Homo sapiens: one gene and its partner. The protein of the gene in region 1 purifies or fractionates together with the protein of each later gene. This does not show direct contact. Each region holds a gene or a part of one and is shown on either strand. Other genes may lie near its edges.

Region 1 (15,108 bases):
AAAAACAAAATAAAACAAAATCCCTCAGGGCTTTTCTTCAGGGAAGGCAGGAGAAAATTGTAACTTAGCTTTGCTATAATGTTCAGCTAATTTTGAAAATAAAATCACAGTGCTAAGAAAATTGTTTCTGATGAATTTTGGTACAAAGCAGAATTACAGTGTAAATGTTTGATTTTAAAACATTAAGAGGCAAATAATCACACATTATATGATTTCATTTGTTTATTTATTTATTTAGTTTTGAGGTGGAGTCACACTCTGTTGCCTAGGCTGGAGTGCGCTGGCATGATCTTGGCACATTACAACCTCCGCCTCCCGGGTTCAAGCAATTCTTTCTGCCTCAGCCTCCCAAGTAGCTGGTATTACAGGCGGGACCACCATGCCCAGCTAATTTTTTGTATTTTTAGTAGAGAAAAGGTTTTGCCATGTTGTTTAGGCTGGTCTTGAACTCCTGATCTCAGGTGATCCACCCGCCTCGGCCTCCCAAAGTGCTGGGATTATAGGCGTGAGCCACCGTGCCTGGCCTCTATGATTCCATTTATATCGCAAGCCAAAGAAAAGGACTGAGGTGAGTCTTGAATCATTTTAGTTGATTTTGCCAATGTTAAGGGCGTATCCAGGAAAGAAAAAAAACACACACAAAAGTACAGGAAACATCTGCTATCTGTGCTTTTTCCAAAGAGGGTTTGGGGACTTCTATAAATAAAGGGAAAAGAGCGGGCAGTAGGAGAAAGAGCAAAGAAAGAAAAAAGAGAAGGTATATATCTAATAGAGTTGCATTCGAAAGCAATTGCATTCGGATCTTTTGATCAGTGTTTACTGAGTCCACATTTTACATGTGGAAGGAGAGGGTAGAAGAACAGTCACCTGGGCATTAATTTTGCACTTAGTGAATCTGCATTTTATATAAGATAAATAAACATAGAGTAGAGGAGGCAGCCAGATGTAGATTTGTCTCAGGTGGGTGGAAGGGTGACAATTAGTTCTGTCCTTTGTCCATCACTTGTGAACATAAGTTATCCATTGACATTATCAGGGTGAAATTCAACGGAACTCTTTTTTTTTTTTTTTTTTTTTTGAGACAGAATCTTGCTCTGTCGCCCAGGCTGGAGTGCGGTGGCATGATCTCGGTTCATTGTGACCTCTTTCTCCCAGGTTCAAGCAATTCTCCCGCCTCAGCCTCCCACGTACCTGGGATTACAGGCACCCACCACCATACCTGGCTAATGTTTGTATTTTTAGTAGAGATGGGGTTTCACCATGTTGGTCAGGCTGGTCTCGAACTCCTGACCTCAGGTGATCCACCTCCCTCAGCCTCCCAAAGTGCTGGGATTATAGGCGTGAGCCACCACACCCAGTCTCAACAGAAGTCTTTTAGGGTCAATATCTTGAGGCCCACAAGGAATTTTCTTGGAGCAAATTCGGAGGGAGGTATGTAGTCTTTTATCTTTGTAGTTATCTCTTTTTTTTTTTTTTTTTTTGAGACGGAGTCTCGCTCTATCGCCCAGGCGGGAGTGCAGTGGTGCGATCTCAGCTCACTGCAAGCTCTGCCTCCCAGTTTCACCATTCTCCTGCCTCAGCCTCCCGAGTAGCTGGGACTGTAGGCACCTGCCACCATGCCTGGCTAATTTTTTTTTTTTTTTTTTTAGTAGAGACGGGGTTTCACCATGTTAGCCAGGATGGTCTCGATCTCCTGACCTCATGATTCGCCCGCCTCGGCCTCCCAAAGTGCTGGGATTACAGGTGTGAGCCACCGCACCCGGTCTGTAGTTATCTCTTTAGAAAAAAAAAATGGGAGATAGGTTTGCATGACCCAGTTCCCAGCTTGACTTTTCCCTGTAGAATAGTGAGTCTGAGGTCCCGAGATTTTATTTTCCTTTTATAATATAAACATGAAATAATAATATATATTTGTAAGATCTGAAAACTACAGTGTAAAAGAAGGAAGAACACACAAAAAGAATACACACACACAAACATATATACATATATGCACAAACACACATATATGGTCTCTGTCCCTGTTTCCTGGGTGCACAGCTCCTGAAACCCTTGAAATCTGCAAAGTGGTAAGTGTCTTTGTGGATGCTAATGAGACGACTGATCTCTGGGGCCTCGTGAATAGCCTCAAAATGAGGCCTGGTTGCCAGGGGAACCAACCTCATGATTAGGGGATTGGAACTTTCAGCCCCCTGCCCCCATATTTCCAGAGATAGGGAGGAGCTGAAGGTTGAGTTGATCACCAGTGACCAATGATTTAATGAATCTTGCCTATGTGGCCATCGTGGTGGCTCCTGTCTGAAATCCCAGCACTGTGGGAGGCCAAGGCAGGAAGATTGCTTGAGGCCAGGAGTTTGAGACCAGCCTGGGCAACATAGTGAGAATTCATCTCTACAAATAAAAAAATTAGCCAGGCATGGTAATGCATGCCTATGGTCCAGCTACTCAGGAGGTGGAGATGAGAGGATCACTTGAGTCCAGGAGATCAAGGCTGCAGCAAACTACGATTGCACCACTGCATGCCAGCCTTGGTGACAGAGCTAGACCCTGTCTCTATTTTTTTTTTGAGACAGAATCCCGTTCTGTCACCCAGGCTGGAGTGCAGTGGTACGATCTCAGCTCACTGCAACCTCTGCCTCCCAGGTTCAAGCAATTCTCCTGCCTCAGCCTCCCAAGTAGCTGGGATTACAGGCGTGTGCCACCATGCCTGGCTAACTTTTTAAATTTTTAGTAGAGATGGGGTTTCACCGTGTTAGCCAGGATGGTCTTGATCTCCTGACCTCATGATCCGCCTGCCTTGGCCTCCCAAAGTATGAACCCAGGAGGCGGAGCTTGCAGTGAGCAGAGATTGCGCCACTGCACTCTAACCTGAGTGACAGAGTGAGACTCCATCTCAAAAAAAAAAAAATCTTTGTAGCTATCTATTTAGGAATAAAATGGGAGAGGCAGGTTTGCATGATCCAGTTTCCAGCTTGACTTTTGCTTTTGGCTTAGTGAGTTGGTGGTCCTGAGATTTATTTTCCTTTCACAGTCATTATTCAGGGAAGAGGGTAGGGTCTTGATATTCAAAATTTCTTGGGTGATAAATCTACCAGGGTTTGGATGAGGCCAGACATTGCTCTTTCAGTATCTCAAACCCAGAAAGATGAGTTACTGACATTGAATATGTGAAAGGAAAACAGTTCTGTTTAATTTCTTGAATTTCATCTAAAACAGTTCTGGTTTTGTTTTGTTTTGTTTTGTTTTGTTTTGTTTTGTTTTGAGACAGAGTCTTGCTCTGTTGCCCAGGCTGGAGTGCAATGGCGCCATCTCAGTTCATTGCAACCTCTACCTCCTGGTTCAAGTGATTCTCCTGCCTCAGCCTTCTGAGTAGCTAGGATTACAGGCATGCACCACCACACCTGGCTAATTTTTTTATTTGTAGTAGAGATGGGGTTTCACCATGTTGGCCAGGCTGGTCTCCAACTCCTGGCCTCATGCAATCCACCTACCTTGGCCTCCTAAAGTGCTGGTATTATAGGCACGAGCCACCATGCCTGGGCAAAACAGTGCTGTTGAATTTCACCCTGACAGCATAAATGAAAAACTTGTCTTCACAGGTAAAGGACAAAGGACAGAACTAAAAGTCATCCCTCTGTGCACTGGAGACAAAAGCATATCTGACTGCTTCCTGTACTCTATGTTTATTTATCTCATGAAAAAAATGCATATTCACTGAGCTCAAGATAAATGCATAATTGACTATTTCTCCACCCTTTTCTTTCCACATGTAAAATGTAGATTCTGTAAACGCTGATCAAAGACTCAAAGGAACACGATCACTTGGCGCTTCAATTTGTTCTCCCTCCCCACTTGTTTTTTTATTTTGCCTTCCCCTACTACTCACTTTCTTTCCCTTTATTTATTTATTTATTTAAGACCGAGTCTTGCTCTGTTGCCCAAGCTGCAGTGCAGTGGTGTGATCTCGGCTCACTGCAACCTCTGCCTCCTGGGTTAAAGCAATTCTCCTGCCTCAGCCTCCCGAGTAGCTGGGATTACAGGCATGTGCCACCACACCCAGCTAATTTTTGTATTTTTGGTAGAGACGGGGTTTCACCATGTTGGCAAGGCTGATATCAAACTCCTGACCTCAGGTGATCCGCCTGCCTAGGCCTCCCAAAGTGCTGGAATTACAGGCATGAGCCACCCAGCCCGGCCTCTTTTTCCCTTTAAATATTGAAGTCCCCAGACCGTCTTTGGAAAAAAAAAGCATGCATCACAAATATTTCCTGTGGTTTTTATTTCTTTTTTCCTCCCACTGCATCCTCAACTTTCACAAAATGACCTCTAAAAATGACTGAGACACGCTTCAGTAATTTTCTTTGATTTACAAATGCTTACCAAATTCAGATGCTTTAATTCAGCAAAACACAACAGCTAAAACAAAGATATCAGAAAAATGTTGAATGGCTGGCCAGGTATGGCAGCTCATGCCTGTAACCTCAGCACTTTGGGAGGCCAAGGCTGGAGGATCACCTGAGGTCAGGAGTTTGAGACCAGCCTGGCCAACATGGTGAAACCCCGTCTCTACTGAAAATACAAAAATTATCCAGTTGTGGTGGTGAGCACCTGTAATCCCAGCTTCTTATTAGGCTGCGGCAGGAGAATTGCTTGAACCTGGGAGGTGGAGGTTGCAGTGAGCTGAGATTGTACCACTGCACTCCAGCCTGGGCAACAGCGTGAGACTCTGTCTCAAAAAAAAAAAAAAAAAAAAAAAAAAAAAGAAAGAAAGAAAGAAAGAAAGAAAGAAAAAAGAAAAATGTTGGATAGTATCTGTGTCTCTGAAAAAGAAACAGATCAGGCCAGGCATGGTGGCTCACTCCTGTAATCTCAGCACTTTGGGAGGCCAAGGCAGGCGGATCATGAGGTCAGGAGATCGAGATTATCCTGGGTAACATGCCTGTAATCTCAACACTTTGGGAGCCTGAGCTGGGAGGATTGCTTGAGGCCAGCAGTTCAAGGCCAGCCTAGGCAACATAGTGAAACCCTGAATACAAACTTTTTTTTTTTTTGAGACAGACTTTCATTCTTGTTGCCCAGGCTGGAGTGCAATGGTGAGATCTTGGCTCACTCCAACTTCCGCCTCCTTGGTTCAAGTGGTTCTCCGGCCTCAGCCTCCCGAGTAGCTGGGTTTACAGGCATGCACCACCATGTCTGGCTAATTTTGCATTTTCAGTAGAAATGAGGGTTTCTCCATGTTGGTCAGGCTGGTCTCAAACTCCCAACCTCAGGTGATCCACCTGCCTCAGCCTCCCAAAATGCTGGGATTACAGGCATGAGCCACCATGCCCAGACTAAAAAATGTTTTGTTTTTTTTTTGAGATGGAGTCTTGCTCCCTTCTCGCAGGCCGGAGTGCAGTGCTGTGATCTCAGCTCACTGCAACCTCCAGCTCCCAGGTTCAAGCAATTCTCCTTCCTCAGCCTCCCCATTAGCTGGGATTACAGGTGTGCACCACCACACTCGGCTAATTTTTGTATTTTTAGTGGAGATGGGCTTTTGCCATGTTGGCCAGGCTGGTCTTGAACTCCTGACCTTAGGTGATCCACCTGCCTTGGCCTCCCAAAGTGGTAGGATTACAGGTGTGAGCCACCACACCTGGCCAACAAAATGTTGTAAAAATTAGCTGGACATAGGGTCAGGCATGAAGGCTTACACCTGTAATCCCAGCACTTTGGGAGGCCGAGGCAGGCAGATCACCTGAGGTCAGGAGTTCAAGACCAGCCTGGCCAACATAGTGAAACCCCGTCTCTACTAAAAATACAAAAATTAGCCAGGCATGGTGATGCACCTGTAATTCCAGCTATTCAGGAAGCTGAGGAAGGAGAATCGCTTGAACCTGGGAGGCGGAGGTTGCAGTGAGCTGAGATTGTTCCAATGTACTCCAGCCTGGGCGACAGAGTGAGACTCCGTCTCAAAAAAAAAATACATAAATAAAAATTTTTTTAAAAATTAGCTGGGTGTGATGGCATGTGTCTGTAGTCCCAGCTACTTGGGAGGCTAAGGCAGGAGGATCACCTGAGCCCAGGTGGTCGAGGCTACAGTAAACTGTGATGCAGCCTGGGTGCAAGACACTTTCTCAAGAAAAAAAAGCCTTTGCCAGGTGGTATGGCAGAGTGATTCAGAGTGACAGCATAAACACTTGGAAACAGATTGATTAGGTCAGATTCCCAGTTCTGCATCTTACTAGCTCTGTGGTGTTAGAAAAGTTACTGAACCTTCATGTGTCTCAGTTTCCACATTTGAGAAATGGTAGTAATAATAGTACCTATCCTGTGGTTTGGTTATGGTTTGTTTGGCCCCACCAAGTGTTGTGTTGAAATTTGATTCCCCACTGGGCCCAGTGGCTCACGCCTGTAATCCCAGCACTTTGGGAGGCCAAGGCAGGCGAATCACCTGAGGTCAGGAGTTTGAGACCAGCCTCAACATGAACAAACCCCATTTCTACTAAAAATACAAAATTAGCCGGGCATGCATGCCTGTAATCCCAGCTACTCGGGAGGCTGAGGCAGGAGAATTGCTTGAAACTGGGACGCGAAGGTTGTGATGAGCCAAGATGGCACCATTGCACTCCAGTTGGGGCAACAAGAGCGAAACTCTGTCTCAAAAAAAAAAAAAGAAAAAGAAAAAGAAAAAGAAATTTGATTCTCAATGTTGGAAGTGGGGCCTTGTGGGAGGTGTTTAGGTCATAGGGGCAGGTCCCTCATGAATGGCATGGTGCCATTCTCGTGGCAATTAGTGATTCTCACTCTTTTTTCTTTTCTTTTCTTTTTTTAATTTTTTGAGACAGAGTCTTGCTCTGTTCCCCCAGGCTGGAGTGCAGTGGTGTGATCTTGGCTCACTGTGACCTCCACCTCCCGGGTTCAAGTGATTCTCCTGCTTCAACTTCTCTAGTAGCTGGGATTACAGGCACCTGCCACCATGCCTGGCTAAATTTTGTATTTTTAGTAGAGATGGTGTTTTACCTTGTTGGCCAGACTGGTCTTGAACTCCTGACCTCAGGTGATCTGCCCGCCTCAGCCTCCCAAAGTGCTGGGATTATAGGCGTGAGCCACTGCCCCTGGCCTGAATTACTGATTTTTACATACTGTATAAACGTCTGCATCCTACTTTTTCTTACTTTTGTTAAATTTGGCCTAAAGCTGCCTCATAAACAGTGAACTGTATTCTAATTTAAGCATGTCAAGATTTCACTAATGAAATATAAAAGTAAAATTTAAAAAAAGAAAATATGAAAATAAAAAAACAATGTAAACATTTGGGAGAGAGCCTTTAGGCCTTGTCAGTTCCCAGAATGTACTTATTTTCACTATGCTGGGGACTCCATTTCCAGTATTGAGGTCCATTTTCAGAAGGTGGATTTGGTGAGCATGAAAAAAGGGGGTGGGGGAGTAATCATACAAACAATTGTGTCCAGGCCAGCTTCCTAGGACATGAGGGCTCCCTCTGTATGGCAGAGGCACCTGACATCCGTAACTGTTGTGCACCCTGCGAATGACTTTATGGTCTAAGAATGTATGTTCAGAGCCCCAGCTAAGGAATCAGGAGTGGCAAGATCCTGGAAGGATGCCAATCTATGAAACCCTGAGTCAAGAGGTCAAGCTGGGCACTTGTTTTCCTTTTTCTTTTTTTTTGTAGGAGTTTCACTCTTGTTGCCCAGGCTGGAGTACAATGGCGTGATCTCGGCTCACTGCAATCTCTGGTTCAGGCGATTCTCTCACCTCAGCCTTCCCGAGTAGCTGGGATTACAGACATGTGCCACCATGCCCAGCTAAATATGGAGATGCGGTTTCTCCATATTGGTCAGGCTGGTCTCGAACTCCCAACCTCAGGTGATCTGCCTGCTTCAGCCTCCCAAAGTGCTGGGATGACAGGCGTGAGCCACCGCACCTGGCCAAGGCACTTGGTTTCTTAGATCACCCACTTGGCCCTCTTCCAAGTTGTACTTTCCTTCTTTCCTTCCTGTTCTAAAGTTTTTTAATATTTTTTTTTTTCCTGAAATGGCATCTCACTCTGTAGCCCAGGCTGGAGTGCGGTGGCGTGATCTCAGCTCACTGCAACCTCTGCCTCCTGGGTTAAAGCATTTCTCCTGCCTCAGCCTCCCAAATAGTAGGGATTACAGGTGCCTGCCACCACGCCTGGCTAATTTTTGTATTTTTAGTAGAGATGGGGTTTCTCCACGTTGGCCAGGTTGGTCTCAAACTCCTGATATCAAGTGATCCTCCCGCCTTGGCCTCCCAAAGTGCTGGAGTTTGGAGTTACAGGCCTGAACCTCTGTGCCTGGCCTGCTTTTTTTTTTAGACTGAGTCTTGCTCTCTCGCCAGGCTGTAGTGCTGTGGTGCGATCTCGGCTGACTGCAACCTCTGCCTCCCGCGTTCAATCGATTCTCCTGCCTCAGCCTCCCGAGTAGCTGGGACTACGGGCGCATGCCACCATGCCCAGCTAATTTTTTAGTAGAGATGGGGTTTCATCATATTGGCCAGGCTGGTCTCAAACCCCTGACCTCGTGATCCCCCCACCTCCGCCTCCCAAAGTGCTGGGATTACAGGTGTGAGCCACTACGCTCAGCACTGGCCTGCTTTTTAACAAGCTTTTACTACTGCTCTGCAGCTTACCTCCCTCTGGCTTTCTGCCTTATGCCCCTCAGTGCAATTCTTTCTTCTGAGGAGGCAAGAATTGAGGTTGTTGCTGATGTGTAGGGATTCACCACCCGGAACTCCACCAGTAACAGGTCGAGGATGCTAGTTGAAAATGTTATGTAAGCTGCATGCTTTTTACAAATGGTAGTGGTTCTCATGTCCAGCAATGGCCACTGCACCGTCCCTGTATGAAAGTCCCCTCCATAAATCTATGTCTCCTTTGCTGTCTCCAGATCTCCTCCTCTACCTCTCCCACACGGTGCCTTCCCTACTGGAGTAAACTGGGGTCCCGCAGGGCACCCTTTCCCTGCAATTTTTTTTTTTTTTTTGAGACAGAGTCTCGCTCTGTTGCCCAGGCTGGAGTGCAGTGGTGCGATCTCGGCTTACTGCAGCCTTTGCCTCCCGGGTTCAAGCGATTCTCCTACCTCAGCTTCCTGAGTAGCTGGGATTACAGGCACGCACCATCACGCCCCGCTAATTCTTTTTTTTTTTTTTGTATGTTTACAAAATAGGGACGGGGTTTCACTATCGTTGGCCAGGCTGGTCTCGAACTCCTGGCCTCAAGTGATCTGCCCCCCTCGGGTTCCCAAAGTGCACCTGGCCTCTCTCCCTGCATCTTTATGTGCCTGCAACACCAAGAGGGAGCTCTTGGCCCCTGGGTTAAGGTCAGGGCTCCAGAAGCCCAGGGTCAAGGCTATGGCCGCATCCCAAGGACGTGCATCCCTGCAAGAGGCTGCATCAGACAGGCATGGAAGAGGCGCCGCTGGGGCCTCCTTGAATTCCTGCTGGGAAAAGCAAGTGGAGGTGCTCCTTGAAGAAACAGGGGGATCCCACCGATCTCAGGGGTTCTGTTCTGGCCTGCGGCCCTGGATCGTCCAGCCTGGGTCGGGGTGGGGAGCAGACCTCGCCCTTATCGGCTGGGGCTGAGGGTGAGGGTCCCGTTTCCCCAAAGGCCTAGCCTGGGGTTCCAGCCACAAGCCCTACCGGGCAGCGCCCGGCCCCGCCCCTCCAGGCCTGGCACTCGTCCTCAACCAAGATGGCGCGGATGGCTTCAGGCGCATCACGACACCGGCGCGTCACGCGACCCGCCCTACGGGCACCTCCCGCGCTTTTCTTAGCGCCGCAGACGGTGGCCGAGCGGGGGACCGGGAAGCATGGCCCGGGGGTCGGCGGTTGCCTGGGCGGCGCTCGGGCCGTTGTTGTGGGGCTGCGCGCTGGGGCTGCAGGGCGGGATGCTGTACCCCCAGGAGAGCCCGTCGCGGGAGTGCAAGGAGCTGGACGGCCTCTGGAGCTTCCGCGCCGACTTCTCTGACAACCGACGCCGGGGCTTCGAGGAGCAGTGGTACCGGCGGCCGCTGTGGGAGGTGCGATCTCGGGGCAGGGCCGGGAGGCGCCCGAAAGCCCGGCGGTGGGAGTAGGGGAGCCCGGGCCCCCCGCAGACTTCTTCCCCTGGGCGTCTCCGAGCTGGGGCCCGCAGGAGGTTAAAGGTCAACGGGCTTGGGGGCGCCGGCTTGGGGGACGGGGGAACAGGAGCACCCTGGAGGGCCGGGGCGGATTAGGCAGGAGGAGAAAAGGCTCTTGCCGAGCCCTTTCCCGAGGTAAAGGCTGAGTCTGTGCAGTATCCTTCCTTTCAATATTTATTTTTAATTTTTAAAAATTTTTTTGAGACTGGGTTTGCACCTGTTTCCCAGGCTGGGGCGGAGTGGCGCCAGCCTAACTTCTGAGCTCAAGCGATTCTCCCGCCCCAGCCTTGCAATTTAGGGGGTGCCAACACGCCTGGCTAATTGAAAAAAAAAAAATTATCTGGGCTCGGTGGCTCACACCTGTAATCCCAGCACTTTGGGAGGTGGAGGCGGGCGAATCGCCTGAGGCCAGGAGTTTGAGACCAGGCTGGCCAACATAACAGGGTGAAACCTCATCTCTACTAAAAATATAAAAATTAGCCAAGTGTGGTGGTTCATGCCTGTAATCCCAGCTACTTGGGAGGCTGAGTCAGGAGAATTGCTTGAACCCGGGAGTAGAGGTTGCAGTGAGCTGAGATCAGGATGCCACTGCACTCCAACTTGGGCGACATAGTGAGACTACGTCTCCAAAAAAAAAAAAAAGGCAAAAAAACTTAAAAAAAAAAAAAAGATACAGGGTGTCACTATTTACCCAGGGTGGTCTCGAACTCCTGGCCTCAAGCCATCCTCCCACGTTGACCTCCCAAAGCGCTGATTACTGGCATGAGCCACCCACACACTCTGGCCACAGCGGCATGCACTGCACAGAGCTGGGCCCGGGGATCGGGAGAAGGTGACAGTTTAGATGTCCTGAGGTCAGCTCTGCCGAGGCAGGAAGTCCCTTGGTTTTCAAGGTTCACATAGAGGACAGGACATGACATCAGGCCCAGGACGCCACCCCTGTTCCCCTCCTGACTTGGATGTGATCTGCAGAGAAGTGGAACTGGGTGAGGTCTGGGCGGCTTTTGCCTGGTCTACATCCTCTTATTCTGACTTTGCAGCATTCAGTACAGGAGGGAAAGAGGAGGGGGCTGGGTGCCAGTGTGCACCCCACTCACAGTGTCCTAAGCAAAGCTCCCCCCATTCCTCCAACCAGCCTTCCTCCCTGTGACAGGCAGTGGCCATCTGCCTCTTAGTCACAGGTCTGAACCTTCTTGCCTCTGGCTGGGATGTGGCCCTGGGCTTGCTCCTGTCTCAGGAGATATTGTGCCCCATCCACTCTGAGGAGGAACTCCTGGCCCCACTGGCCCAGGTGCACAGATCGCCCTGGCAGTTGACCTGTCATCAGCAAGTTATCTGTCCTTTCTGCCAAGAATCCCCGCTATGTGTCAGGGCTTGTGCTAGGCCTGGGGGCACAGCCGTGCAGCACACTGGTCCTGGACCCTTTTGGGGGCCTAGGAGCTGAGCCCGGCTCTTCTCTCCACAGTCAGGCCCCACCGTGGACATGCCAGTTCCCTCCAGCTTCAATGACATCAGCCAGGACTGGCGTCTGCGGCATTTTGTCGGCTGGGTGTGGTACGAACGGGAGGTGATCCTGCCGGAGCGATGGACCCAGGACCTGCGCACAAGAGTGGTGCTGAGGATTGGCAGTGCCCATTCCTATGCCATCGTGGTCAGTGCGGCCAGGAGCAGGCAGGGCGGGTGGGGGGGCACGGCTGCTGAACAGCATGGGACCTCCAGCTGCCACCCACGGCATGTATGCTGGGGTGGGATGGTGGGGGGTCCTGCCCTGCCCTGCCCTGGGGGCTGTGCCCTGTATAGGGGGATAGGTAGCCTGATCTACCCCATTGGGATGTCATTCTTCCCGTCTGGCTGGAAGGCCCCGGAGCCCCATGCTGCAGGTTATGTGAGGGAGTGCCCGATAGTAGGGCGCCTCCTCATGCCCTGACCTGCAGCCCCCTCCCCGTATCTCCTGTGTCTGCAGTGGGTGAATGGGGTCGACACGCTAGAGCATGAGGGGGGCTACCTCCCCTTCGAGGCCGACATCAGCAACCTGGTCCAGGTGGGGCCCCTGCCCTCCCGGCTCCGAATCACTATCGCCATCAACAACACACTCACCCCCACCACCCTGCCACCAGGGACCATCCAATACCTGACTGACACCTCCAAGTGGGTACCATCCTGCCTCCATTGCACACACCCACCTTCCCGCCCCACCCTGTGGTCTTCCTGGTAGGGACTGGGTGGCCTTCACAGAGTGGAGGCCTTGGATCTGGGGAGGCCAGGGAGGCCTGTGAGCTGAGGTCAGGGGACCCAGAGCAAGGGCCCAGCAAACCACAGTCCTCCCATCCTAGGTATCCCAAGGGTTACTTTGTCCAGAACACATATTTTGACTTTTTCAACTACGCTGGACTGCAGCGGTCTGTACTTCTGTACACGACACCCACCACCTACATCGATGACATCACCGTCACCACCAGCGTGGAGCAAGACAGTGGTGAGGGCTTCTGGTAGGATCCTCTCAGCGGGGCCCAGGGTGGCTCTGTTTGTTCCCTGTTTGGAAAGCTCTCCCAGGAAAAAGGTGCTCCCAGCATCTCTACACCCTCACAGATTCCCTTCCACCTATGAAGCTAAAATTCAGCCTGTGTGAGCGGATACGGGCTCCCAAAATCACCCGTGTGGTTGACCTCGCTAGGAGAAGAGGGGTCTGGCCTAACGTCACACAGCTCGGGGTGGCAATCCTGTCCCTTCTCTATGGTGCTACTCTCACTCCATCTCCCCTTGCTACACATCGTGCTCAAGGAACAGGCAGCTTCGGTGGGGGGGGCGCCGGGCATGGTGGCTTATGCCTGTCATCCAGCACTTTGCAAGGAGGCCCTGGTATAAGGATCACTTGAGGCCAGTAGTTCAAGAGCAGCCTGGGCAACATAGTGAGGCCATCACCACAAAAAATTAAAAAATTAGCCAGGGATGGTGATGTGTGCCGGTAGTCCCAGCTGCTGAGGCAGGAGAATCACTTGAGCCTGGGATGTCAAGGGTGCAGTGAGCTATGACCACACCACTGCACTCTGGTCTGGGCAACAGACGCAGACCCTGTCTTTCTTTTTTTCTTCTTTTTTTTTTTTGAGCTGGAGTCTCGCTCTGTCGCCAGGCTGGAGTGCGATGGCGTGATCTTGGCTCACTGCAACCTCTGCCTCCCGGGTTCAAGCGATTCTCCTGCCTCAGCCTCCCGAGTAACTGGGATTATAGGCACCCGCCACCACGCCCGGCTAATTTTTCTATTTTTTTTTAGTAGAGACAGGGTTTCACTCTATTGGCCTGACTGGTCTTGAACTCCTAACCTCAGGTGATCCACCCTCCTCGGCCTGCCAAAATGCAAGGGTTACAGGCGTGAGCCACTGTGCCCAGCTGGGATACCCTGTTTTTTTTGTTTTTGTTTTTTGTTTTTGAGATGGAGTCTTGCTCTGTTGTCCAGGCTGGAGTGCTGTGGCGTGTTCTTGGCTCACTGCAACCTCCGCCTCCCGGGTTCAAACAATTCTCTTGCCTCAGCCTCCTGAGCAGCTGGGATTACAGGCGTGTGCCACCACGTCCAGCTAATTTTTGTATTTTTAGTAGAGATGGGGTTTCACCATGTTGGCCAGGCTGGTTCAACTCCTGACTTCGGGATCCACCCGCCTCAGTCTCCCAAAATGCTGGGATTACAGGAATGAGCCACAGCGCTCGGTCTGTATTTAAGAAAAATTTTTGTTTTAAGTTTTTTTTCTTTTTAAAAATATATCTTTTTCAGGGCGGGCGCGGTGGCTCATGCCTGTAATCCCAGCACTTTGGGAGGCCAAGGTGGGGGGATCACGAGGTCAGGAGATCGCGACCATCCTGACTAACATGGTGAAACTCCGTCTCTACTAAAAATGCAAAAAATTAGCCGGGCATGGTGGCAGGGGCCTGTAGTCCCAGCGACTCGGGAGGCTGAGGCAGGAGAATGGCGTGAACCTGGGAGGCAGAGCTTGCAGTGAGCTGAGATTGCATCACTGCACTCCAGCCTAGGGGACAGAGCGAGACTCCATGTCAAAAAATAAAAATAAAAAAATATATATATATCTTTTTCTTTTTCTGAGATGAGGCTTGCACTGTGGCCCAGGCTGGAGTGCAGTGGTGAGATTATTGACAGCCGTTGTGGGGCCGCGGTTCTAAGTTTAAAAGAATTTAGGCTGGGTGTGGTGGCTAATGCCTGTCATCCCAGCACTTTGGGAGTCCAAGGTGGATGGATCGCTTTAGCTGCAAAGTTTGAGACCAGCCTGGGCAACATACTGAGACCCTATCTAAGAAAAAAATAAATAAATAAAATAAAATAAATGAATAAAAAAGAATTTAAAAAAGAATCCCACAGCAAAGACAATGCACCATAGAGCAATTTATTGCCAAGGAAAGGTATTTTGGAAGTTAAGTTTAGAACAGCCTGGGTGCACTGGCTCATGCCTGTAATCCCAGCACTTTTGGAGGCCGAGATGGGTGGATCACTTGAGCTCAGAAGTTCAAACCAGCTTAGCCAACATTAGCTGGACATTGTGGTGTGAGCCTGCAATCCCGGCTACTCAGGAGGTTGAGATGGGAGAATTGTTTGAACCCGGGAGGTGGAGGTTGCAGTCAGCTGAGATTGCAACACTGCACTCCAGCCTAGGTGACAGAGTGACACCCCCATCTCAAAAAAAATAGTGAAGTGCAAAATGCACAGTTCACCCTGAGACACAGAATTCAGGACAGGCTGCTCGTAAGGATGAGACAGCACCGATTATTACTGGGGAAACTCCCTTTCTGGGAGTCTTCCGTGATGAATTCCTAAGGAGCTGGGAAGAGGTGTTACTGTAAGCACGTTCTGGGCCGTCCTCTGGTTGCACATGCGTAGTAGCTGTACATGCTTGTTCACACGTCACGTGTCTCAGTGCCGTGGTTGGCATGTCTGAGGGACACGGTCACTTCCTTGACTACCTAT
Region 2 (15,276 bases), about 39 Mb from region 1:
GGTGGGGTGAGCATGCTGGATGCCCAGGGGCTCCTTATTCTAACATTCGGGAGACAGAGGAAGGAGGGAGCCAGGATTAGGTTTGGACTTCATCAGTGCGCCTGGTCTGGGCATTCCTTGTGTACCCCCAGCTGGCTTGGAGAGTTCCAGAACTGGCCAGTGGGCCCTGGGTTGGAGGGAAGTCCAGAGACAAGAGTCCTCAGGAAGCAGAGGCAGACATCTCTCCAGCTTCAGAGCCTCCAAAACAGAGCTGTAGCCAGGGTGGAGGCAGATGAAAGTTAAACTGCATGTTTCCAGATTATTGGGAAAGCCCCAGCTAATTGGGCTTTGGGGACCCCACACTCCTGGGAAGGGTGGGAACTCCCTGGAAAGGTGCAGGAAACTCTATTATGCTCCTTGCAGTAGGGAAAGGGATGCTTATAAGGAGTCAGAGGTCGGATGTGCCCCTTTCACTTCTTAAAATATAGATTATTTCTTTCTGTACGTGAAAAAAAAATCAAATCAGGCATCCCCTACTTGAGTGGGATTTACTACCCCAGAACGAAAGGGCCCTTCTGCCCTCCCCAGTGCCGGCCTCGGCAGTAACCAAGTGTTTAACTGAGGCCCTTTCAAGTGCTCTAAAACACCCCTTGGAAATAAAATGTAAGCTTTAATTGCTGTTCAATTACTTGTCAGCATTTCATATGATTTATGACCTAGTTCTGGCGCATTTTTGACCCAGTTAAAGACTCATAAATAATATAGTTTTGCTAGAAAGAATGAGAGAGGGAATAGAGGTTTGTTAGAGGCATCTTTTTATTGTTGCTTCAGTGCCAGCAAGCTGAATAAATATCTAAGGATGGACTCTGGTTCTACATAAAAGCATGCACAGTGAGAAGCCAAGAGCCACATTTATAGAGCTCAGATTGGTTTTTCCTCCCATGAAAGTGCTAAAGTGAGTCCATTACGTATAATGCTAAACTATTAGATATCAAAAAAGGCTAGTCCCCTTCTACCTCGAAATGCCAGCTTCACCCTCACAGGCAAGTACATTTCCTCAATAATTTTCCTCTCTATTCTGTGATTTTGGTGCCTCTTCTTACCCACGATATTCCTCACCTTCCTCCCCGGCTGCACAGCCTTGGAACCGCCAGAGGCCCTCTCAGACGCCTTCAGGAGGACACCCCTTGAATGGTAGAAAGACACCACGGGCACCTTTGCTGCTCCAAGTATTCTTCTAGTGCTGAGAAAATCTTTTCTTCTAGTCCCCCTGGATGAGAGATCGGGAGCCACGGGGATTTGGGGGAATTGGTGGAACCAAGGGGTCCTCTCAGTAAAGAAAAGCTCTGCGGTTTTGGGGGAGCCGGGTGAACTGCTGTGGGATTTGTCTAGAAAGGGCGCAGCGGCGGCGGCTGGTAATTTCTGGAGGTGGAAATCAACAATCGGCATTTTCGCTTAAAAAACAAAACACCAATAGCAAACCAACAAATAAAAACCTTCCGCCAGCATAAATTATTATTTTAAAATAATCTCGCCTACGCTTGCTCCAAAGCCAGTCCTTTGGATTTAAGCAGAGCGGCTTGAGGCTGGGGCACCGACCATCTGCATGCCAGGACGCTGGACCTTCATCTTGAGGTCGGAGCCCCACTTCTGCCCGCTGAGGCCCGCGGCCCAGGAGCCACGTATCGGGGCGGATAGAGGCCCTGGCCGGAACGAAGCTCCCGCCCCAGATCTCCCTGGGCTCCCACGGCTCCTCAGGTCTGGTCCCCGCGTTTTGCCCGGCAGGGTCTTGGCGCCAGTGGAAAGGTATGCTTTCAGGGCGCCCCAGCCCTTGCTCGGGAGCCCTCGGTCCCCTTGGCCCAGAGAATCCCTTCCCCTGGCAGGTTCTTACGGAGAGCTGGCCTTCCCGGCAGCTGGCTTAGCTGAGAAGGCGGTGAGAGTCGCGTCAGCAGTTTGGAGGAGAAAGTGCGGGTTGATTATTGACCCACGCCTTCTTTCTTCAAATGCCACATCCGACCGGGCGGGTTTGAAGAGAAAATGCCGCCGAACGGATTTTTGCGGCTGGCTCTCACCTCCTACGCGGCCAGCTCCCCCTTTCAAGTTGCTCTGCAATATGCCATAAGGAGCAAGTGTTTGCTGTTTTGTGCTCTGTTTACAGCTTTGGGGCGCCGAGTCATAAATCTTGCCCAGCCATAAATGACAAAAACCATTGGTATGCATGAGGCCACCCTGGCCCGGAGTGCTTTTTGATTTCTCCCTTTTCCCCTGGCTTTGTTTTTGCTCTAAGGTGACACTTTGGCTCCTTGACAGTTTAAACATACTACTTATATTTTTAACACCTTCCTTTGAGAAGGACCCGCCGTTGACGCCTTGGGATTGCAGCAAAAGAGAGAAATCTCCATTTCTCTTTTTGCCACACTCGTACCCTTGCAGAGTTTGCTTCTGAAGCTGGGAGCAAAGGAGGCTTTAGGAGGAAAATCATCCACTTTCAAGTTGTGGCAATATTACCAGGCAAATTCGGACCTTTCTTTTGCCCAGCTCAGCGTTACTCCATCCCACTAATGAGGAAAATATGTATATACATATATATAATATATATTATATATATAATATATATTATATATATAATATATATTATATATATATGTATGTTTTAGGAATCCGTTTGAGAAACCACATATTCCTCTGCCCTGCGTGTGTGTGTGTGTGTGTGTGTGTATGATGTCGGTTTCTCTTGGGGTCAGAGCTTTCTCTGTCTTCCCTGTGGGTGAGCTGCGTGTCTGCACTCTGAAATGGGCACATGAGCCCTGGAGATCCGCGTTTCTAAACACCCTTGTTTGTACCTGAGCCCAGAGCATCCCATTTCACTGCTGGAACAAGTACCTGTCTCTCCCAGGACATTTTTCTCCTGGCTGCTAGGATGTCAGCAGTTTCTGCCTGAAAATTTAACCAAAGAGAGCCCAGTTGGCTCTTGAGGGTCTCTAGAGAAAAGCCTTATCCCAGCTCCCCACACCCCCACCCAAAGATCTGTTTGGGAGTTGCAGGTGAAGTAAACTGGGCAAAGTCTGGGAAACTCACTTTTCTTGGTTCTCTTTCCCCTCACCCCACAATTGGAAGTGTCCAGGGCAGAGGAATACGAAGTTTCTCAAACGAATTCCTAAGAAATAGAGCCCAGCAAGAGAGCCCCTTTGTGAGAGCCGTTTGTCCTCATTAGCATAATTTTCCTGGACTTTCGTGACGCCTGGGAGCAGGAGAGGGAGGGCGTTGGGGGGTGGGGGGAGGCTGCCCTCCTCCCGCCACCGCCGAGCTCCCCTTCTCCCTCCGGTCCCTCCCCTCGCCTCAGCCCCATCCCCCACACCAGCCCGCGCTTCCCCAGCCGCCTTGGTCTCCCCTCCCGCCCGCCCCAACACCCCCCACCGCACCCCCGGACCAGACGCTGCTCCGCGTGTAATATTCATAAGAAACATACCCAAGTCGGTGCCACTAGCCCAGGCAGAGCCCGGCGCCGCACTAGCGCTTATCTCCGGGCCGCGGCTGCTGCCCTCGGGAAGGGCAGGGGGCGGGGGTGTGGGGGAGGGGTGGGTGGGTGGGGTGGGTGGGAGGGGGGTCCAAGCCGCCCCAGTCGGCCCTGGGCGAGCCGTGCTGGAGCAGCGAGGCGGCCACGCTCTGCGCGGCGGTGACCGGGCCTCGGGGTCTCCAGCCCGCCTGCCATCTCGGCTGATGCTGAGGGTCCGTGCCCATCCCGCGCCGAGGGGACCCGGCCGGGCCGCCAAGCCAGGCCGGGGGCCAGAGCCCGTGTCGGAGCCTGAGCCCGAGCCTGCGCTCGTCAGAAGTTAAGGTAAGCAGGGCCGCAACCGGCCGCTCCCGGCGCTGAATGGCGGAGTTTACGTCTCGGTGATTTATGGCTGCAGACTTAAATCTCGGTTCAAGAAGAGTTCACAAGCCGGAGCTTCCTTCCCGGCAGTGACTGATACCCTTACACTTCGAGTTCAGGCCGCTTTCCCATCCCCGCCCCCACCTCTTGCCTCTCCCCTAGCCCAGCCTTAACTTTTCTGGGTTGCAGAGGGAAGGAGAGGTGGGCAGGGGACTCGGGGCTCCTATCCGACGAACCCGCTCAGATTTGGGGTGAGGGAAGGCTAAGAAAGAGGAGGGAATGGGAAGAGGGAGCGATGTCTGAAGGACGGAGGTTGAATTTGGGCACATCTTCCAGAGAGACAATAGGGCTTGCTTCTTGCACTCAATTTAGCCTCTTCAACTCTCTTTCGGCTCTTGCACCTGGGGATTATTGTCCAGAAACAGATCTTTGTGGAGGAATCTCCCCTCATCCCCAGCCCTTGCTTGGCGGTACAGAGCAAAGTTTCCTGGCTGGCAAATCTCCAACTTCTTTACTAGGTTGCAAACTTTGGGGGCTGGGTTGGGGTGGGGGGATGTATGAGCTCCAAGGTGGTGGTCTGCTGACCTCGAACAATAGGAAGGATTTTGGTGGGATCCCAGAATCGAATTTATATTTTAAGTTTACGAGGGCTGTTGTATGCTCTTTGATTTTCAAAGATATTTTTGTTATTTTGTAAGACAATGCACAACTTGATAAAAAGGCTTAACTAAGTAGCAGGCTGGTATAACGTGATAATGGATTAGCAAGTCACTAGAAATATTGCATGTGCAAAATCAGCTTAATTTTGTTTTATCTAATATCTTGCTGTTCGAGTGTCTAATTTTCTTAACCTGACATTTTATTTTACACAAGCCTGGTATCTAAAAAATTTGTAATGGCAGACATTGACACTGCCAAATGTAATAGGAACTGTTTTCAGTAAAAGAAAAGGAAACGGATACACTAAATTGCTATTCAGTTTTAAGTTTTACTTTATCCTTTATTTACTTTCAACCATGGTATGTGTAGCTTCCTATTTCCAAAAGAGAAACAATGCTCCAGGGCTCATGATCACTGACAATAACTCTGGATAAGCGATGCTGTAATTTTTAATCGAGGTTCTGGAAAATTAATTGTGCCTGTTTTGCAGATGTTGGTAAGATTGTTGGCTTAATAATGAAATCTAAAGGAGTCCATTATCAACAATGGAATTATAATCATCTACTGGTAGATGCAATACATTATCTTTTTTTTTCTAGTTAACAAAGCATCTAATATTCCTGGAAAACTTGAATAACTCTGGGACTCAATATACATAGTTGGATTGCATGTTAACCATTTTCTTTTGAATTTGTTATAATTTTCTTGAGTGGTCAGAGGGACTAAGATTCTGAGTGTGTGTGTGGGTGAATATTTGAAACTCACATGGAACTTTTCTGTGCTGAGAACTAGAGGTTGACCATGCAGTGGTTGAAAACAAAAAGAAAACAGATTTAACTTTTGCAAACTGCTTTCTAAATGAAAGAGGGTTGAGGAGGTTTTCAACTGCTTTTTAGATTTTCAGGGTTATCCTTTACTTGGTATTTCTGAAGCAGGTAAATAGGCCAAGTAACAAAATATCAACAACAACAACAGCACACAAAGATCAGGAAACTCTGGCAGGATTTTATGGCTTGTGCTTCCATCCCTCGTCGGGAGCCAAATGACCCCCATACATCAAATTACATAGCAGTTTCTAAGACAGAACCTATTATCGTTAAGTTGGAAGGAGAGTTCAAACTGTGGTCATGGAGATGAACGCTGGTTTTTCAGGTTCCTGGAGGGGTTTTTTTTCCCCCTCTAATCCATCATGTTTTAACAGGTAGAATTTGATAGTTGCCCCGAATAACAGCACCTTAGAAAGTCCAAGACAGGAGGTTCTGGGAACCTTCTGTAACTGGGGGAAAGAAGTAAAGAAGTGGGGGTGGCTTGCTGGGAAGTGCCTGAGAAACAGGGAGAGGAAAGGAGTAAAGAACTCTCCAGGATTTTAGTTGTGACTTGCTGGGTGGGGTGTTACTGTTGGTCCCTCACCCTAAACACACACACACACACACACACACACACGCAATGTGTTCCACACAAAGTTTTCCCTCCCCCCTTGGCTTGGCCACAAGGGGTTCATTTGGAGGAGGTGAGTCATATCCCCAACAAGGTGGATTAACTTCCTAACAAGCTCAGCTTCTGAAATCCAGCATGGTTGGATGGGGCAAATTGCCTGAAATTTTTTGTGCAAACCTCTCTTGGGAGCAGGAAGGTCCAAGAAGGAGCTGGGTGGGAAGTTACCCCATCTCAGGGCTCTTTTGGCAAACATCAGTCCTAAAGCGGAGAAAACATTGGCGACCCAAGCTCCCCTTTGCCTCCTCGTTCCCTTCCCAACATTCCCAGAGTGGAGGAGTCTTGGGCCCTCTGGAGGAGGCCAAGGAGCAGAAACTAAGCGACACCCCAAGTTTCTTCTTCCCTGGAAAAGAAAGATCCCAGCCTTTTTCCTTTCTAGCCTATCAAGCCTTTCTCCTTTTGGATCCCGGCTCCTGAGAATCAGCTTGCAGCCCTCACTCATTCTCCTTCTCCCCGGAAAATCCCCCAACTCCAGACGCAAGTTAAGCAAATATTTGTAGCTGCCAGTAAATTCCAGCGGTTTTTTATAGCACGGCTCCCTGCGCCCGGGGCCAAGTCGTGCTGCTAAATATTGCTGACCACTTTTTCTTTTATGGCTTTCATGTCACTTAGCTATTGAGAGTAAGATGGATTTGCGCGGAGCCCTCACCGCGCTGCGCTTCTCGCCCCACCAGGTCTGCGCGGGGCGGCCATTGGCGGCGGAGTGTCACGTGACCGCGGGGGCGTGCCAATGTGCGCCCTCACGGGTGTCAAACCCCTGTCAGAGTGTGCGATCAAGATCGTGAAACAACGCGATGCAAAAAGCGACCTACTACGACAGCTCGGCGATCTACGGTGGCTACCCCTACCAGGCAGCCAACGGGTTCGCTTATAATGCCAATCAGCAGCCGTACCCGGCGTCCGCCGCTTTGGGCGCCGACGGCGAGTACCACCGACCCGCCTGCTCCCTCCAGTCTCCCTCCAGCGCCGGGGGCCACCCCAAGGCACACGAACTGAGTGAGGCGTGCCTGCGCACCCTGAGCGCCCCACCTAGCCAGCCTCCAAGCCTGGGAGAGCCGCCCCTGCACCCGCCGCCGCCCCAGGCCGCGCCCCCTGCCCCACAGCCGCCTCAGCCCGCACCTCAGCCCCCTGCACCTACCCCTGCCGCGCCCCCGCCTCCCTCTTCTGCCTCCCCTCCTCAGAATGCCAGCAACAACCCTACCCCTGCCAACGCGGCCAAGAGCCCCCTGCTCAACTCACCCACAGTGGCCAAACAAATCTTCCCCTGGATGAAAGAGTCTCGACAAAACACAAAGCAGAAAACCAGCAGCTCCAGCTCAGGTAAAGGAGTGCCTTCTGGAAGAGGGTCCTCTGGCCTGGCTCCTGGTCCCCAAGCTACTGCCCACGACATCCAGCACAGCCTAGGAGCGATGGAGCATGTCTGGAATTCACTGCTCCCACACCACTGCCCACCAAAAAGGTTTTCATAGTCTTTGCAACTTAGGGAGGTGATAGGCCTCTGTAGGCTGGAAAACACCAGAGACCTGCTGGGAGTCCCTCTGGACTTCTCCAAGGGCAAGTAGGGTCTAGTGCAGTTGGAATCTCTTCTTGCTCCACTCTTGGAGTTAGGACCTCTGTGCAGAAACAACCTGAGCTCCACTGTCTATCTTTTTAGCACAGCTCTTCTAATGAAACAGTGACATCCTCCCCTTACTGAAATGTGGCAGAATAAAAACAGGCCTAATCACCCTCCAAGACAGAATCAATGCTTTGCCTATAATCAGAGCCAATTTTTGCTCCAGCAGATGGAGTGGCTGCCTTACCTCTGGGAAGACCCTACTCAGACTTAGTACAATGAAAGCAGCCAAAGATCTCCTGGGGGAGGGGGATGCAGACTTATCATCCTAATGGGAACCACATGGGCCTCCTGAAAGCGGGCTCCAGTAGAGGAAAGGCCCCAGGCTTTAGGCTTCCTAGCATTTTGGTTACCTTTGCCCCTGCCTTCTCCAGTTGCCAGTGCCCTGCTCTGAGCCTGAGCATCTGGGACTTCCAGAGCTAGGATCTGGGGGGCCAGGGAAGACAGAAGGGTACAAGATTAGTGGACAAAAGCTGGGGCTGGCTGCTTGATGACATAGGGAACCCTAAAGAATAGGACCTAGCATGAAGGGCCTAGGCCTCCCCACCAGAAATACCTTCAATGGGATCTCTTCTTTGGGCAGAGAAGGCCTTCCAGTTTGAGGTTTCCAGTCTGCCCATCTCCTCTGGGTAGAGAGAAAAAAGTGGCCAGTTGAAGCTACTGCCTAATTATTGTCAGACAGTGTGGGAGGGAAATGAGTGTGTACATTAGGTTTCCCACATTTCAGTTACTGTGAAGAGAATGGAGATGCTGAGACCGGCCCACAGGGAGGCTGTTGTCCGATAGGCCAAAGGGACCAGTAAATGAGTCAGAAAGTTAATAGCTCTAAACAGAAAATCCAGACCAGGAAGGCAAACCGGGGGTTCTACTTCTCTGTCCTTTCCCCCGAGAAGGCTGTGATTTGCTCCTTGGCTAAATGAGGGAGTATCACTGTTTTACCCACCAGGAGAGAGGATAGCACCTAGTTCCTACTTCTCTCTGGGACCTGACGGATGCAGGAACCTTTGGGGCCTGGTGGAAGGAGGGGCCGGGCTGGGTCAGGGGCTGGGCGGGGCCGCGGCAGCCCCTGACGCCGCTCTTCCTCTCTCTGTCCTCGCAGGCGAAAGCTGCGCTGGCGACAAGAGCCCGCCGGGGCAGGCTTCGTCCAAGCGCGCGCGCACGGCCTACACGAGCGCGCAGCTGGTGGAGCTGGAGAAAGAGTTCCACTTCAACCGCTACCTGTGCCGGCCGCGCCGGGTGGAGATGGCCAATCTGCTGAACCTCACTGAGCGCCAGATCAAGATCTGGTTCCAGAATCGCCGCATGAAGTACAAAAAGGATCAGAAGGGCAAGGGCATGCTAACGTCATCGGGGGGCCAGTCTCCAAGTCGCAGCCCCGTGCCCCCCGGAGCCGGTGGCTATCTGAACTCTATGCATTCGCTGGTCAACAGCGTCCCGTATGAGCCCCAGTCGCCCCCGCCCTTCTCCAAGCCCCCCCAGGGTACCTACGGGCTGCCCCCCGCCTCCTACCCTGCGTCCCTGCCCAGCTGCGCACCCCCGCCACCCCCACAGAAGCGCTACACGGCGGCAGGGGCGGGCGCAGGGGGCACCCCCGACTATGACCCGCACGCTCATGGCCTGCAGGGCAACGGCAGCTATGGGACCCCACACATACAGGGAAGCCCCGTCTTCGTGGGGGGCAGCTATGTGGAGCCCATGAGCAACTCCGGGCCAGCCCTCTTTGGTCTAACTCACCTCCCCCACGCTGCCTCGGGCGCCATGGACTATGGGGGTGCCGGGCCGCTGGGCAGCGGCCACCACCACGGGCCGGGGCCTGGGGAGCCGCACCCCACCTACACGGACCTTACCGGCCACCATCCTTCTCAGGGAAGAATTCAGGAAGCACCCAAGCTCACCCACCTGTGATAGTGGGCTTGGGGCTACGCGCCAGGAGAGTCTCCCCCCACCCACCTTTTTTCTTTGGTTGCTTTTTTTTTTTTTTTTTTTTAGGTTCTTCCTGCCCTTTCCTTCCTTCCTTTTCTCTCTTCTCCGCCCCGCACTCCGTTTCCCGGTTTCCCCCCTCGTTGGTAAGGCGTTTTTATAGTTTATGTGACGTAGCAATCTTGGTTGCTGGAATGGCTGTATCATAGCGATATTTATCTCTTCCTGCTCCTCGATAGGCCACTGGCCCTGCACCCTTTACCTTCTCCACTCTTTGATCAGAAACAGGGTATATGAACAAATTTTCTAGTCGAGTTTTCAATGTGAATTTGTTCTTACATTATGGCTCCCGAGGGGAAGCGATTACTTTTTTTAATTTTAAATTTTTTTTTTAATTGCACTTCTTGTAAAGAGTGAGAAAAAAAATCAAAGGCGCTTTGAAACAGGGGCTCTCTGTGCAAGGATGACTAAGTGTACGTCTTTCCGTGTGTGTATGCTGGTGAACAGTCAGATTTATTTATATTTTTTTGCAAGCATTGAATAATCTAAGTTTTAAATATTATTTATCCCCATCCGTTCGTATTTATATTAAAGAATTCTGTACCCTGATGGTTCAGAAGGGTTCTTGGGCCTTTTGTTCAATTGTGTATTGGCGTACTTAGAATTTTTTTTATTTGAAAGAGAAATATAATTCCTTTAAACGGTAACGATACAATAAAACCAGAGAAGATCCAGCTTTTGAAAACAGTGATTTAGGTTTGTAACATCCGGCAAAACTGAAAAAAAAAATCTGTAAACGCGAAAAATACTAGATTTGTTTTGAGAGTTCTTCATTCCTTGCTGCTCACATTCTGAGAAACAAAAAGAAATAAAGTTTTTATTCTGAATAATATCCGTGTTAAGAAGGGGTTCTTTGGCCGAAGACGTGGGTCTGCGTGGAATTCAGGCCGAGGCGAGCCGGCAGAGCAGGCCGGACGCAGCAGCCCTCTGGCTCCAGCATGGGGCCTGGCCAGGCTATTCGCCTGGAAGCTCGGCGAATTCTCAGGATGGCGGCTGGGGCTCCAGGCGGCTGCGGCAGCTCTGGTAACGCCGTGCGGCGGGCCAGCTGGGCTGCCCGGTTCCCAGCTGCTGCGGAGGCAGGCTGAGGGCGCAGGGGCTGCCGAGTGCTGTGCACGGAAGAAACAAAGACATCCCGGCCCAAGGCGCAGCGGGAGCGCACAGGTGCCCCGCGGCCCAGCCGGGGGATAACGCAGGGCGGTCTTCTGCTCCATGCTCTTCCTCGGGTCAAAGCGGACCAACTAACGCCTAAACCTCGGTATTAGCCAGCCGCGCAGAGGATGCCGAGCACTTTCCGGGAGCAATCGGACTCCTGGTCTCCTCCGGGGATGCTTCGCGGTCTGTTATCGCGTCAGGAGGAAAGAATTGCTCCAAAAATCTGCACGCGGAGCGAAACAGTTTGAAAGGGACTGAGGCTCACCCAGGTCTCCAGCAAACGGAGGACTGAACTGGGGAGAGTCACCCTGAGCCAGCCCTTCCCTGGACTGCCGGAATCCCAGCATTAGCTTCCTGCTGAATGTAGTATTTGGCATTCTCTGAATTTATTTCCTCTCCTTCCCCCACCCAGCTTTCTTTTTATGGCCCCAGGGGGAGGGGGAGAGAGCAAGGAGATCGGTATCTTTGTAATAAAACTGCAATTTTATAAATTTTTCATTTGATGTTGTAGGAGCTAAATATTACATTTCCACTCCTGGATTTAAGATAGGGCTGCTTACTGACTGGCTAGAAGAGGCAAAAGAAGGCACAGTAAAGGGAAATATTTTCATCTTCAGATTTAAGGATTCCTCGAGAAAGGAATCAAATTCAGAAAATGCAGACCTCAGACCTGCATCCCCATCATCACCCCCTTCAGAGCTAGAAGCGAGGAACTGCTTTCGTCTGGGGATCAGGAGCATCGGATGTGAGAAATAAATCCCTATTCTCCCTGGATTGTATCTTTCAGAGACAGAAGTGGAAAATGTCGCCATTTTGTTTGCAATCCAAAATATCCATCATCATGGCCTTTATCTTCCCCCTGTGAAGCTCCCTCAGATTATCCTTAGAAGCAGGCACTGGAGCCATTTCTGGGTACCTGCTGGGTCCCAACGAGCTGCTTTTAGAGAAACTCCTCATGGTTTAAGGAAAAGGCTCGGAGGATGCCAAGCCAGGCTGCTGTGGAGAGCTCAGTGTTTCTCTCACACCCAGAGGTGCTTTCCCCATATCTGTCCTAAGGCTGCTGATATATATATCCTTTTTAAAGGGTTTGGGCTATGGGAGAAATAGATTTCCTCTCCGCACCTCAACCTCTGCGCCAAAATATGGCGCACCTCAGAAATGCAGAGGCTGCAAAACCAGGCTTTGTGAAGACTAGAGCTTCCACCTCTTCGTCACGCTAAGCAGATACAGGAGTCTTCTTTTAAGTAATCAGCTTAGAGACACGTGTAAAATTACCTGGAAAAATAAGGAACAGCTAGGGGAGAGATTCACCTAAGGATGAAGATCCTTCAGGGATATCACTATTTGAACACGTTTCTGAAATCTACTCTTTAGCTGAGGGAGGGGTGGTTTGGAGGCTTCCTCCTTCCCCCAGGGCTAAGATTTTAAAATGAGATTCTAATGTGATTTCCCGCATCTTACCAGTCAAGACATTCATTTTGGCTTTCAAAGAAAAAAGTATTGACTTCACCCCCCAGTTTCCTAGATATTAAAAAGAAATCCTTATTAAAATATCTCATAAGTTAAAGTAATAGATTTGGGGAAGATTTCAGTGTTGAGTGGTCAAAGAAAAGGGTTTTCTTCCAGATGGTATTTGAATTAAGGCGGCTGAGGCAGCAGAAAGCTCTCACCCACGCAGCCCCTGACAAAGCCTCAGAGATATGGGGGCAGCGCTGCTCCCTCTCTGCACCCCCCGCCCACGTTCCCTTAAGCCTGTAATATTTTCTGGTAAAAGCAGATGCCAAAAGCTGCCATCCCAGGGTTCGCAAAGCACCCTTCCTAAAAGGAGCCCTATAACCCTTTTCACTGCCAAAATATATTTTTTAAAAGACTAGTTTTCCTTATTTACTTGCATTTCCTGCTCTCCTCTTTGCTCGGCCACATTTTATCTTGGAAGGAGCTGGAAGCTGAAATGTGTTCTTAAGGGCTAGAAGCTGTCAAGGCTTTTGGTGAGCAAGATTGATCGCGCCCAGACTTCCTTTGGAGCTTTGTTTGGAATAAAAGCAAGAAAACTAAAAAACCTCACATTTTCCAAAATAGCATCTCTATCTGCAAGGCAATGCTCTGGGCTGGTCAATGATATAGGCCACTTATGTCTAATTTCCACCCCAAACCCTCTTTGACGCTGGCCTCAGAGATGGGGTCCTGCCTTTGCTCCTTGGTTGGCCTTTCTTGTTTTCTACGTAGATTTTTCTCCCCCTCCAACCTCTCTCTCCCTGACCATCAGAATGATTTATTTTCCTGCCATTGATGCCTGCCGGCCTGGGGGAGTCTGATCAGTTAGTCTATTTCAAAGGAAGCAAAAGCGAATCACCATCCTCAGGGTTTGGGGGGGAAAGAGGTACCTCCAGATCTACCTCTCAGCCTCCTCACCTCTTTCTGGCTTGGTGGATTTTTTAAAAATTATTTTTTGGTACCTAAAGGTGTTATCTTTTGAACCCTCTAGCACTGTCCAAGATGCGCTCAGTCTCAAGTCTCCGAATTGGAAAAAAGATAATGAAGGAGAACGAAAACCTTTATAATTCCTCCTTGGGTCGCCTCCTCTCCCCCGCAGTGCTGTTTCCCACAACAGAACCCGGAAGCAAACATCCCCGGTGCCCAAGGATCAGGAAGGTGTGGGAGGCAGTTCAGGCTGCCAGGGAGCACTCGCTGTATCTAAACCAACCAGCCCCCAACCAGAGCGACAAGGACAAGAAGAAGGGTAGAAAAAAAAGAGAGAGGGAGGGAAAGAGAGGAGCAAGCATCTTCTCTTTCCCTGCTGGTAACTTCCAACAGACTTCCTGGAAATCGGAAATACTCACCGCACCCGAGCCCTACGGGTATGAAACCCAGAATGCCAGGAGCCGCACGCGCCTGCTCGGGGCGGCATTTCTTTGGCTGGCCGCCGCCCTGGCTACGGGGATTTGGACACATGGACCTGGGGTTGTTGTCTCGCTTGGCACATGCATCTTTCTCCAGCCACTCCTGAGAAGTTGATGGCGCAGGAAGGTCGGGAAGCTTCGAGAGCCGCCTCCCGTTTTCCGCTTCCCGCCGGAGCCAGATGCAAAGCTGCCGTGGAATAGCCTGCTAACAATGGGCCCGGGGCGCAGACTCTGGGCTGGACACTGGGAGGGGGGCGAGAGGCTGAGGGGAGAAGGGGAGGCGGACAGAAGAGAGAGGGAGGGAGAAAGGGGGAGAAGAGGAAAAAGAGGGAAAGGGACAGACAGGAAGGAAAACAGACCGAGAGAGATCAGTTTTGAGATCCAGGAACTGCTTTTAGGAAAAGTGAAGGAGGAAAAGGGAAAGAAAAGGAAGACCCCTTCCCAACCAAAATCTTTCCTTTCTTCTCTCTTTTCTGTCTTCTCTTTCTCCATCTCTCAAACTCTCTCTTCTTCCCTCTCTCTTTATTCTCCCTCTCTCATCTCCTCTCTTCCTCTGCTCCTTTCTCCTGCTTTAACAGAACTTATGTGGCTGGGACGCAGGGCCCTCGGGTGTCAAAACTTTGAAGATTAATGGATTACTTTGTTAATGACTGCAGGCGTCAGACTGAGGTGCTTAAATGATTTGTGAGGTGCGAGGCGTCTTCCCGACAGTCCCAAACAATGCGCGGAGTGTGCGGGGGAGGCAGAGGGCAGCCACCGGCGGGACCGACAGCAGGGCTTACACTCGCGCACATTCACACACACACACACACACTCCCAGGCACACACACTAGATAGATCCTTGCAGATCAGGAGGCACGCAGGCACCCTCGCCCCCACGTACTCCGGGACATCCCCACCCACACCAACATATATGTATTTTTGCTCTGAAAAAAGTGTAAATAAAGCCTCGCTGGCCCCCAATGAGGCGTTCCTTCCCGACTTTTTTGGATCAATCAAACAGACAGTGGCTTCTTTTGATTAAAGCCCAAATTGTCATTGGGCAGAAGCAATCATGTGACAGCCAATTCGGTCCAATTTCAACCTTGTCTCCATGAATTCAATAGTTTAATAGTAGCGCGGTCCCCATACGGCTGTAATCAGTGAATTAGAAAAAAAACACCCTAGCAGCGATATTCTATGATAGATTTTTTTTCCTCTGCGCTCGCCTTTTTCCTAGGCCTTGCCCCCCCAAAGCCCCTCCAAAAGAGGGAACTTTTTCTCTGAGGGGGCTCCAAGGAGAAGGCCATGAATTACGAATTTGAGCGAGAGATTGGTTTTATCAATAGCCAGCCGTCGCTCGCTGAGTGCCTGACATCTTTTCCCCCTGTCGCTGATACATTTCAAAGTTCATCAATCAAGACCTCGACGCTTTCACACTCGACACTGATTCCTCCTCCTTTTGAGCAGACCATTCCCAGCCTGAACCCCGGCAGTCACCCTCGCCACGGCGCTGGCGGCCGCCCCAAGCCGAGCCCCGCGGGCAGCCGCGGCAGCCCGGTGCCCGCCGGCGCCCTGCAGCCGCCCGAGTACCCCTGGATGAAGGAGAAGAAGGCGGCCAAGAAAACCGCACTTCTGCCGGC

What was found.
Region 2: the proteins of GUSB (region 1) and HOXA3 purify together in Homo sapiens (affinity purification with mass spectrometry; 2 studies listed by BioGRID and IntAct, with this or other methods). This does not show direct contact.

What each region holds. Positions count from the first base shown.
Region 1 is NC_000007.14:65,976,906-65,992,013, reverse strand, and holds the start of GUSB (beta-glucuronidase isoform 1 precursor), read left to right. Parts: upstream 1-9,800; 5' UTR 9,801-9,830; coding exon 9,831-10,040; intron 10,041-11,604; coding exon 11,605-11,790; intron 11,791-12,102; coding exon 12,103-12,287; intron 12,288-12,472; coding exon 12,473-12,615; coding exon of another isoform or gene 12,616-12,628; intron 12,629-15,108. UniProt on the Homo sapiens protein: Plays an important role in the degradation of dermatan and keratan sulfates.
Region 2 is NC_000007.14:27,102,166-27,117,441, reverse strand, and holds the end of HOXA3 (homeobox protein Hox-A3), read left to right. Parts: intron 1-3,599; exon of another isoform or gene 3,600-3,817; intron 3,818-6,681; 5' UTR 6,682-6,801; coding exon 6,802-7,327; intron 7,328-8,721; coding exon 8,722-9,527; 3' UTR 9,528-10,432; downstream 10,433-15,276. Other genes in the region: HOXA2 (homeobox protein Hox-A2), read left to right, coding at 14,942-15,276. UniProt on the Homo sapiens protein: Sequence-specific transcription factor which is part of a developmental regulatory system that provides cells with specific positional identities on the anterior-posterior axis.